Linked DNA regions of Homo sapiens. The protein of the gene in region 2 purifies or fractionates together with the protein of the main gene of each other region. This does not show direct contact. Each region holds a gene or a part of one and is shown on either strand. Other genes may lie near its edges.

The links.
Region 1: the proteins of FGF10 (region 2) and ITIH2 purify together in Homo sapiens (affinity purification with mass spectrometry; 3 studies listed by BioGRID and IntAct, with this or other methods). This does not show direct contact.

What each region holds. Positions count from the first base shown.
Region 1 is NC_000010.11:7,698,524-7,706,315, reverse strand, and holds the start of ITIH2 (inter-alpha-trypsin inhibitor heavy chain H2 precursor), read right to left. Parts: upstream 3,001-7,792; 5' UTR 2,882-3,000; coding exon 2,798-2,881; intron 1,209-2,797; coding exon 1,134-1,208; intron 1-1,133. UniProt on the Homo sapiens protein: May act as a carrier of hyaluronan in serum or as a binding protein between hyaluronan and other matrix protein, including those on cell surfaces in tissues to regulate the localization, synthesis and degradation of hyaluronan which are essential to cells undergoing biological processes.
Region 2 is NC_000005.10:44,299,747-44,302,420, forward strand, and holds the end of FGF10 (fibroblast growth factor 10 precursor), read right to left. Parts: 3' UTR 501-2,674; downstream 1-500. UniProt on the Homo sapiens protein: Plays an important role in the regulation of embryonic development, cell proliferation and cell differentiation. Required for normal branching morphogenesis. May play a role in wound healing.

The DNA.
Region 1 (7,792 bases), on a different chromosome or scaffold from region 2:
GGATATAAGCTCAGCTTGCCTGATTCGGGGTGAACTGAGGTTCTGTGCTGTGTGACATGGTGAGGTCAATGGTTGACCTCTTCTTGTAGACTTCTTGAATGCAATGCTCAATGACAAATTTTTCTCTCTTGTGGCTAAATAAATTGTGACATGAAGTCTTGCTTATTGGATTTTAATATTATTAGTCTACAAAAAAAAATCCTGGATTTTCAGAAAGTAAAAAATTCACACCCATACAAAATAAGACATTGATCAGCTTAGGGTTGCTGCTTCCGTAAATACCTCCTCTCTCAGCATGTGGGCTCCGTGGGGAAGAAGCCAAGCCCTTCCTGGTGTTCTGGAAAACTCACCCCCTTAATTAGAGGGTTTTGTCTATACTGCTGCTGGTGGCCGCCAGGATTGCAACTTCCAATGTGGCCAATTCTCCTTCTCAGGTGCCCTCAGAGTGACCAGAGGAAGGAGATTGTGAGGCTGCAAGGGGGAGTGTCTGTCATCGCTAAAATAAGAAAAGTCTTCCTAACAGGAAATCCTTCCGGCAAGGCAGGAAATAATTTCGGAATCTTAAGTTTTGAAGAAAACACATAGCCATGTATTCTTTTTTTTTTTTTTTTTTTTAAATGGAGTGGGGACAGCGTCTCCCTCTGTTGCCCAGGCTGGTGCAATCATAGCTCACTGCAGCCTCGAACTCTTGGGTTCAAGTGATCCTCCATCTCAGCTTCTCAAATAGCTGGGATTACAGGTGCATGCCAGCTAATATATATATTAGCTGGGTGGCAGAGGTAGAGCCTCACTATGTTACCCAGGCTGATCTGGAACTCCTGGCCTCAAGTGATCCTCCCTCCTTGGCCTCTGAAAATGCTGTGATTATAAGTGGGAGCCACTGTGCTGAGTCGTGTACTCTTTAAGGGACTAAATTGAGCATTATGGTGTGAAGGCTGCTGAGCAGTTGTGTGAGTTTCTCTTTTTATTTCACCTGGGTGATCTCTTCCACCAAGGTGTAAGAAGTCTGGACTCTTCTGTGCTAAAAAACAAACTCTTAAGAAAATCTAGCAGAAGGCATCTTAACACTTGTCTTCTTCTGCCATAATCTCTTTCACTTTTTTTCCCCCTTTTGGGAGTAAACCTTACTATACCTGATATCTCCGGTTCTCTGCCACCAATTGAAATTTGCCTGGGGCCAGTTCCACAAGATCTTCATAGTCTACAAACTTAAAAAAAATTAGGATTTTAACTTTTTTTTTTTTAATTATACTGTAAGTTCTGGGGTACATGTGCACAACGTGCAGATTTGTTACATAGGTATACATGTGCCATGTTGGTTTGCTACACCCATTAACTCATCATTTACGTCAGGTATTTCTCCTAATGCTATCCCTCCCCTAGCCCCCCACCCCCTGACAGGCCCCAGTGTGTGATGTTCCCCTTCCTGTGTCCATGTGTTCTCGTTGTTCGACTCCCACTTATGAGTGAGAACATGCGGTGTTGGGTTTTCCCTTCTTGTGTTACTTTGCTGAGAATGATGATTTCCAAAAGATCTAGAGCCAAAGAGATAGCTGTTGGTATTCATTATTTTATATTCTTTCCTCTACCTCTGGGCAATCACAATTTTGTATAAAATGATTTCTTTAGTATATTTCTATTTGCTGGTTACGTCTCAGAGGTGTCCAAATGGAGGGTAACAACACCTTCGCATTTGTTGGACATGGGAATTCATTTTTGAGTTTGCCAGCAGGTGGTAAGACAGAGATCAAAACAACCCAGTGATTAGGTGGGTGTCTGGGGAAGTATCTGGGTAGACCCTGGAGGCATTTGCAGTGTCTGACTGGACAGACATGAACCATACATCTCCCCAAGTTAAAAATGTAGGTATTTTCTAAAAGGAAATGCCAGTTAGAAATGACTGAAAAAGCACAAACACATTTGGATGTCTTGGCTTCAATTTGAGATTTCTAACACACTCTGGTGGCTTTTAAGTGTTGGAAAATATGATAGTTTCAAAGCAGACAGAGTGATATTTTCCCTTTGTAAATATGCCGTCATATTCTCTGGCATTTTTATAGGTAATCCACTCTGCAAGTATTATAAGCCTTTGCATTTGCTGGGATGTTCCCATAACATGCTTCGCTTTTCTGGCATAAAAATAGCTCTTGTATGACTTTCAGAAACAGACTTTCAGTCCAAGACTTTCCTTACATTGGAGATGGCTAAGGGACAAAAGTGGAGACCTGTACTCCATGGGAATTATTCTTGTACTTTTCCACCCTGCCTGCTATCTTCCGCTTTAATAGGAATACTTAAAGTGCTCTTATTACAAATATCACTGTTCACTTAGATATGAAAAACAGTGTGCTTTGATAATGACTTTTCTTATACTCTTAGTAAAAGAGTGATAATATTTCTTCATCATCATAACAGCTAGTAATTATTAAGCACTTACTAGTCCAGGCGCTCTGCTAGAAGAGTTTACACTGTGTCATTTAATTCTCAAAGCAAACCATTGGGTTAGGTCTATTCTTACCCCCAATTTTTTAGGTGAGGAGTGAGCAGCTCTGCTCCATAAATGCTACGCTCTGATGCCTGCCCATTGATCTTGACTTAATTTTCATGCAAAACCTGTTAATGCTTTAAAAGGTAAATATACATTCCAGTAATTATAACAGTAAACACTTGCACTCAGATGAATTTTATCTTAAGTTTCCATTACACACAGAATAAGGCCATTGAATAGCGATTCCAATAGATGATTTACTGAGCTCATGAACAAGCCAACAGCAAGGAGTGATCTGTAAGTACTTACTTCAGAAAGTCCATTTATGGGGATTTCGAAGCCTGATACTTCAGAAAGAAAGAAGCAGATGAAAAAGCACGTGAGTCTTTTCATTTTGCTGGACAGTTTTGCCAAGCTCCCCAAAGCAGATGGTCTGGGGAGGATATCACTTCTTCCTACTGAACCAAGTTCAAAGGAACAGCAGAGGAGTACAGTTCGCTTTAAGAAAGAAGAAAAAAGAAGAAAAAACTCTCTAACTTTGTTCAAAATTGGGACAAATATTTGTTCTGGAGCTCAAACTTGAGCTGTGTGGGTGGATCGAACACCCAGAGGTTATTCAAACAGCAAAGTCAGAAGCAGTTGCTTACTGTGAGGACAAGTCAGGGGCAGATGGATGTGCTTGAATGTGCTTGTGTGCTTTTATTTTATTTTTATTTTTTATTTTTTGGCTTTTGCTGATTTCTATTGATCTTAAAATCAGAGAGACCTACAGATAATTGTCATCCTTTCTAAAGGACCAAGTGCAGAACTATTCCAAGAAACAAAATCCTTTGATCTAAATGAAAGCAGGAAAAATTTAGAAAAAGTGGGAGAAGACACAGAAGGGTTTTTCTGAGCAAAGAATTCATTGTGCATGTTTTCCCCTATCTCTTTGATGACTGTCTACCTGTTACCTATAAAGACCCAGGCAAGTGGCTGTGCAGGATACTAGGGCAGATCTTCAGTGAGAATGCTTCGTGAATGTCTTTGATTAAGGTAACAGTGTCTGTCCTGCTGCCCCTATCAGCCGGGCTCAGGTCAGTGGCAAATCAATACTCCCCAGTCTCAGAATTGGAGTGCAGTGGTGAGATCAAAGCTCATTGCAGCCTCAACTTCCCCCGGCTCAAGCAATCTGCCCACCTCAGCCTCCAGAGTAGCTGGACTACAGGTGTGCACTACACTGCCTGGCTATTTTTTGTAGAGATGGGATTTCATCATGTTGCTCATCCTGGTCTTGAACACCTGGGCTCAAGCTATCTGCTTGCCTCAGCCTCCGAAACTGCTGGGATTCCAGATGTGAGCCCCCATGCCTAGCCTCCATCCTGGTCAGATTCTATTTTTCTTGCAACAAACAGGAAATGTAACTTCTTGGATGCAACACTGAAATAGGAAGCTCCAGCTGTGGGCAGAATTACAATACAAGGGAGGTTGTCTTATCCTCAGGACCAAGCACCCCAGGCCAACTTCTGGGATCCTGGAGCTCCTTGCTACATTTAAAGCCCAATTCACAGGGCATGCAACAGAGAGTTTTCTGCATTTTCCTCCCTAGTTTCCCCTCAGTCTTCGAAATTGCACAGCCGTGTGTCTGCTGGAGAAACATAACTTCTGAAATAATGGAAGGGAGAAAACAGATTCTCCCCTCCCTTGCCTAGGTTGGACTAGTTGAGCGCCCACCTTGGCCAGTGAGTGCCTCAGTGGACCCCTCATGGAAAAATCCTGCCACAGCTTTGCATTCTTGACTGAGATACTGTTTCTGGAGAATTAAGACCCAATGGCAGCTGGGCGCGGTGGCTCACACTTGTAATCCCAGCACTTTGGGAGACTGAGGCGGGTGGATGACCTGAGGTCAGGAGTTTGAGACCAGCCTGGCCAACATAGTGCAACCCCGTCTCTACTAAAAATACAAAAATTAGCCAGGTGTGGTGGCATGCGCCTGTAATCCCAGCTACTTGGGAGGCTGAGGCATGAGAATTGCTTGAACTGGGGAGGCGGAGGTTAGAGTGAGCTGAGATCACGCCACTGCATTCCACCTGGGCAACAGGGCAAGACTTGGTCTCAAAAGAAAAAAATAAATAAATAATAAAAAACCCAATGGCATGTTCTCCCAAAAACAGCAGTGACTTTCAAAATCATACCTCCTTCCATTGATCATTTCCTTTCTGATTATTTTAATCTGATATTCAGAATTATCTCAGAATAAACCAAACCAAAAGCAGGCTGGACTTTTTTCCATGCTGATACTCTGTCTTCAGATCCCAAAGTCCTTTTTTTTTTTTTTTTTTGAGAGGGAGCGTCACTCTGTGGCTCAGACTCAAGCGCAATGGCATGATCTTGGCTTACTGCAACCTCCACCTCCCAGGTTCACGCGATTCCCCTGCCTGAACCTCCCAAGTAGCTGGAATTACGGGCGTGCACCACCACAACTAACTTTGTATTATTTTTTTTAAAGTAAAGATGGGGTTTCACCATATTGGTCAGGCTGGTCTCAAACTCCTGACCTCGAGTAATCCACCTGCCTCAGCCTCCCAAAGTGTTGGGATTATAGGCGTGAGCCACTGTGCTCAGCCTGATCCCAAATTCTTGAAAACAAAACAAAACAAAACAACATTTGCTCTCTCTCTCAATGTTCAGAAGCACGACCGCGTAGGCTGTGTATTCAGGCTACTGAGTCTTGAACCTGAGACCCTTTCCCCTTGCACTCCCCACCCCACTGCCAACCCCTCCCATCATGCCTGGGCAGCTGTGACGTGGTGAATTGAATATATCCACTGATTTCTAGGATGGAAATCACTACCATAAATGCCACAAGAATATTCACTTTCACGTATGTGAAAATCAGTAGGAAATCTACAAGAAAAAAAATCACAATATTTCATAATGTTTGAACAAAGAGATAACATTTAGTACTCATTGGGAACTCTGGGAAATATCAACAAACTTGAGATTCATCACTGAGTGTAAGTCATTGTGGTTTAGCTGACAGTATAACAATAGCTGCCTCACATTTATAGCATTCAGCTCCAGCCCTGTCATTGTGAAAGAGCATGTTTGTAAAAGTCCAAAGTCAAAGCTGGATGAATTCACCAGAAAAATAGCTATATTTGACCCTGACCTGCTTGTTTGGTGGGTCAGGTTGCACATAACATGGAGCAGGTCTGTTTTCTACACATAGTTGAGCTGTGATGGCTTCCTCTGATTGTGAAGACATTTTGTTACATCTTCTTCAAGGATTGTCTGTTTGAATTTCCAAAGATGATATTTGATTACTCTGCTACATTTTTTTGTCCTCTGTAATGCAGAGGTGTGTTTTTTTTGGTTCTGTTTTTTTTTTTTTTTTTAGATGGAGTCTCTCTCTTGCCCAGGCTGGAGTGCAGTGGCACAATCTTGGCTCACTGCAAGCTCCGCCTCCCGGGTTCACGCCATTCTCCTGCCTCAGCTTCCCGAGCAGCTGGGACTACAGGTGCCTGCCACCACGCCTGAATAATTTTTTGTATTTTTAGTAGAGACGGGGTTTCACCATGTTAGCCAGGATGGTTTCGATCTCCTGACCTCGTGGTCCACCCGCCTCAGCCTCCCAAAGTGCTGGGATTACAGGCTTGAGCCACCGCGCCCAGCCTGTTTTAGTTTTTTAATGGAGACAGGGTCTCACTCTATCACCCAGGCTGGAGTGCAGTGATGCAATCATGGCTTACTGCAGCCTCAACCTCCTGGGCTCAAGCAATCCTCCCATCTCAGCCTCCTGAGTAGCTGAAACTACAGGTGCACACCACCACACCCAGCTGATTTTTGTGTGAGCGTATATTTTGTAGATGTGAGGTTTCACCATGTTGCCCAGGCTGGTCTTGAACTCCTGGACTCAAGTAATCCACCCATGTTGGCCTCCCAAAGTGTTGGGATTACATGTGAGCCACTGTGCCTGGCCAGGTGTGGGTTTGTATCATTTGAGGCCAGAACATAAAGATGTTTCAAAAGAAAAATATTTGAAACTGAATAGCAGTATCACAAGCCAAAAATGGGAAGTTAGAGAGCATGGAACGGATTCTCTCATTGGTTCTTAAGCCATGGAAACGTGGCTTTGCTGTTGAGCCATTTCAGTTCTTTCCTATTCTGTGTTCCTTACCTCTGAAGTTCAAATTCAAATCCATTGCCAGAGTAGAGAAATCGAGAGTAGAGTAGACATGTGACCAGCCACGATAGGTCAATTCCAGTGTAGCAGCTTTTGCTGTTCCTCCCAGGGTGTCTGGGTGTTTTCTGGCGAGGAAGGGGTCTCATCTGGAAGTGGTCTCACGATCACACTAAGATCTGGTGCTGGTATTTCAGGTACAGGCTGGGAAGCACCTTCATATGAGTAATTGTGGCTCCCTCCAAGGTGTAAACAGGGCGAAGAGTGTGTTTGGATATCTGAGCCACCAGGGATGTTAGAGGTTATCTAGCTGGATCCTCTAATTTAAAAGATGATGAAAGTGAGGCTCAGAGTGGTTAAGTCATGTGGCCAAGAGAGGGGAAAAGATGTAGCAGAGTAATTGAATGTCATCTTTGGAAATTCAAATAGACAATCCTTGAAGAAGCTATAAGAAAATATCTTTACAATCAGAAGGAAGGTATCACAGCTCAAATACGTATAGAAAACAGACTTTCTCCACATTAAGTACCATGCCAGGCTGTGGCTAGAGAAGTGGAGTAGGGTCAAGATACAGGGCCGAGGTTGGCGGTAACGATGGAAAATGGACTGAACAGTGTGAGTCGGCAGCGTCGTCATCAACCCCTTCCCTGGCCTGCCTCTTTGACTAACGAGCTGGGTTCATGACTTTTGGCAAATCTCTGTATGCCTCAACGTCCTCATCTGAAAAATGGGAATAACAAATAATACTCACCTATGAGTATGTATGAAGGACTTAGAGCAGTTCCTGGAACACATTAGGTGCTAACTAAGTGCTAGTTACTAGTAGTAGTGTTAAAACAGGTCAGCACAGTGGCTCACACCTGTAATCCCAACACTTTGGGAGGTCAAGTCGGGAGGATCACTTGAGGCCAGGAATTTGAGACCTGGGCAATATAGCAAGACCTGGTCTCTACATATTTATTTTTATTTTTTTAGATGGAGTCTTGCTCTGTTGCCTAGGCTAGAGTGCAGTGGTGCCATGTCAGCTCACTGCAGCCTCTGCCTCATGGGTTCAAGCAATTCTCCTCGCCTCAGCCTCCCGAGTACCTGAGATTACAGGTGCACTCTGCCATGCCCAGCTAATTTTTGTATTTTTAGTAGAG
Region 2 (2,674 bases):
TGGGGTCACTGCCTAAGTTGTATGAAGGCATATGTTCAATTTACAGTTGTAATGAGGAACATGGGGTGTTTTGATCCTTCATTTGTTGTGCTGATCTCTAGAGGATGCAATTGCCTGTATTAAACAATGAACATGGACTCTTTTGTGGCGGATAATAAAAATGTGTAAGATAATACGTGCCACGTGCATGTATGTTTGGCATGTGGCTTTTCTCTGTTTATGGAATTGTTGCCCTTTGTTGCTATCATGGAACAGGCTCATGGAAATGTTCATTATTAGCCACTTAGGAACAAGACCAATTCGTTTGACCTCATTAGTTTGATCATGATTATTCCATTTTAACTAATACATGGTATTTATGAAGGTGTTTTCCAAAGATTATTCACTTGCAAGGGCATTTTGTGTTTTATTTTACTATTCTGCAAAAAGACAAATAGATAAAGTTTAGGTGATAAAGTTTTCTTTTGTCACATGTTGAATGTAGTAAAAGACAAAGCAGGTTTTTTTCTGTTTTTTTTTTATTTTACACTTAAACAATGAATGACATCAGGGTTTCAGATTTTTTCTATATGTCGATACACTTGAAAATACTAGCACATACTCTTGGGATAAACTGAAAGAAACATTTATAACATCATATTGTGATACAGGTTGAAGTAGGAGGACCAGCTTTTTATTCAGTGAAAACTTGCATTCATCCCAATATAAAGTTTGCAAAACCACAGTGAGCCTAGCTATATCCAGGGCCCTACTCTTGGCTTAAAACAAAACAATGCAAATGTAATCTTTCAATGGTAAAGAACATATGAAAGAGAATGATCTTAAAACCTCTCTAACTTGGACAAACAAACAGGTGAAGAATAATTGGAATTGGTGGGAAATATAGGAATAGAAAATGTTTTTATGTCACAGCTTCATTTAATAAGATGTAGCAAACAACCATTTGGTTTTTGCACCTGCAGCACTGCTGTCTCCTTGGTGTACTCTTCTTCACTAGTTGCGGTTGTGTGGGCTGCCAAAATCTTCACCTTGCCTCTCTGTGGTCATGTCACTGAAGATTGGTCAATCACAATTCCCAAATCTCTTATACTGATTGGTCTAGAGGTTGGTATGTTATCCAAACCTGGCCAATAAGAGTTATATCTAGGATGTTTACCTTTTTGGATCTTGTAGTAAAGGAGTTTGGGGTTTTGGGTTTTGGAGTAGGAAAGAAGTAGACTAGAAGCAATCTGGCCTAACCAAATAAAACCAATGAAGGGTAACAGAAAATGAATGTCTGAGAAGAAGCAGATCTTCGTTACTTCATTTCTAAGTACTCATAGAACTCAGAGTTCCTTTTTCTCCTGAGCATCCTTCAAAGATATTCCTCTTCCTTTTTATTTTTTTTTCAGTTTAAGTTGGAAAAGTCCTGCTTCATGAAATAAACAAGAACTCTTAATCAATATGGTATCTGTTTGCATGTATATGTCCTACTTCTAATGTACTAGACATCTTCTCTTAAATATTTTAAGCTACATATATAACTTTATTTAGACAAAGTTTGGACCAGCTGAACCCTTCAGTAATATGAAAAAGGTAAATTTTACTTCACTGAATAATCACAAACCTTGAATTGGCAGCATCCAAATTATTAGAACTGTGCAGCATTAATGCTGATCTATGTAAATTGGGTTCATAAACTTGCTTGGGCCCTGGAAGCAACTTGCATTATTATGTATTTTTTCTCTCTAATTTTCAAATCAAATTCATTGGTCATTCATCCCCTTGAAATCAGATTCTGCAGCCACCTGGCTTTCCTCCAAAAGTCTTCCATTGTTTCATAAGCCATCCTCGTTTCCAATTCATTTTTCTTTATCCACTGTGTAAATTAGGTGGACCTGAATATTTAGAAAAGATTGAAAGCATTTGGTTGTTATTAGAGTAAAGATAGCTAACTCACACATGTGAAACATTAGAGAAAACTTACAAATGTTTGAGTAATTTTTTTTTCTGTTGTTGTTGTTTGGGGCTGTGGGGCATTTAACCACATCCTGCCATGCACACACTTGAGCTTCTCTCTTTATTACCAGGTAGAGTTTCTGACTAATAAAACAAACAAGGACAATATTTTAATTTTCTTTTCCCAACATTTTTATTGTTTTTATTTAAATGTAACATACTATACACTGTTCAGCCTTTTGCGAGTTAGGAGGAGGGAGTGATTCTATATCTTTATGAGGAGTATTCTCAGAACCAAAACTCAAATGGACACATATTTGTGGCTGATGCACTTTAACTTTGTGGGCCTGGGACCATACTCCTACAGAGGCAGATCTCTCAATAGCTCCAATTTTTTTTTTTTTCAAATCTACAACATTCAGGGCTGAAACTGCTTTTTTTTTTCTTCAGTAGTTGCAAAAGGGACCAGAATTCTATTTCCATTTCAAGCAAATATGCCACTTTTAAATGCAAGAGAATGTCATTACTCCTTACCAAACAATCTTTCTTTCTCTCTCCTTCCTTCCCTCCCTTCTTTCCTTCCTTCCTTCTTTCCTTGCTTCCTTCCTTCCTTCCTTCCTTCCTTCCTTCCTTCCTTCCTTCCTTCCTGTCTTTCTGTCTTTTCTCTCTTTCTTTTCTCTTTTCTCTCTTTCCTTTCTTTCTGGCTCTTTTTCACCCAGGCTGGAGTGCAATGGCA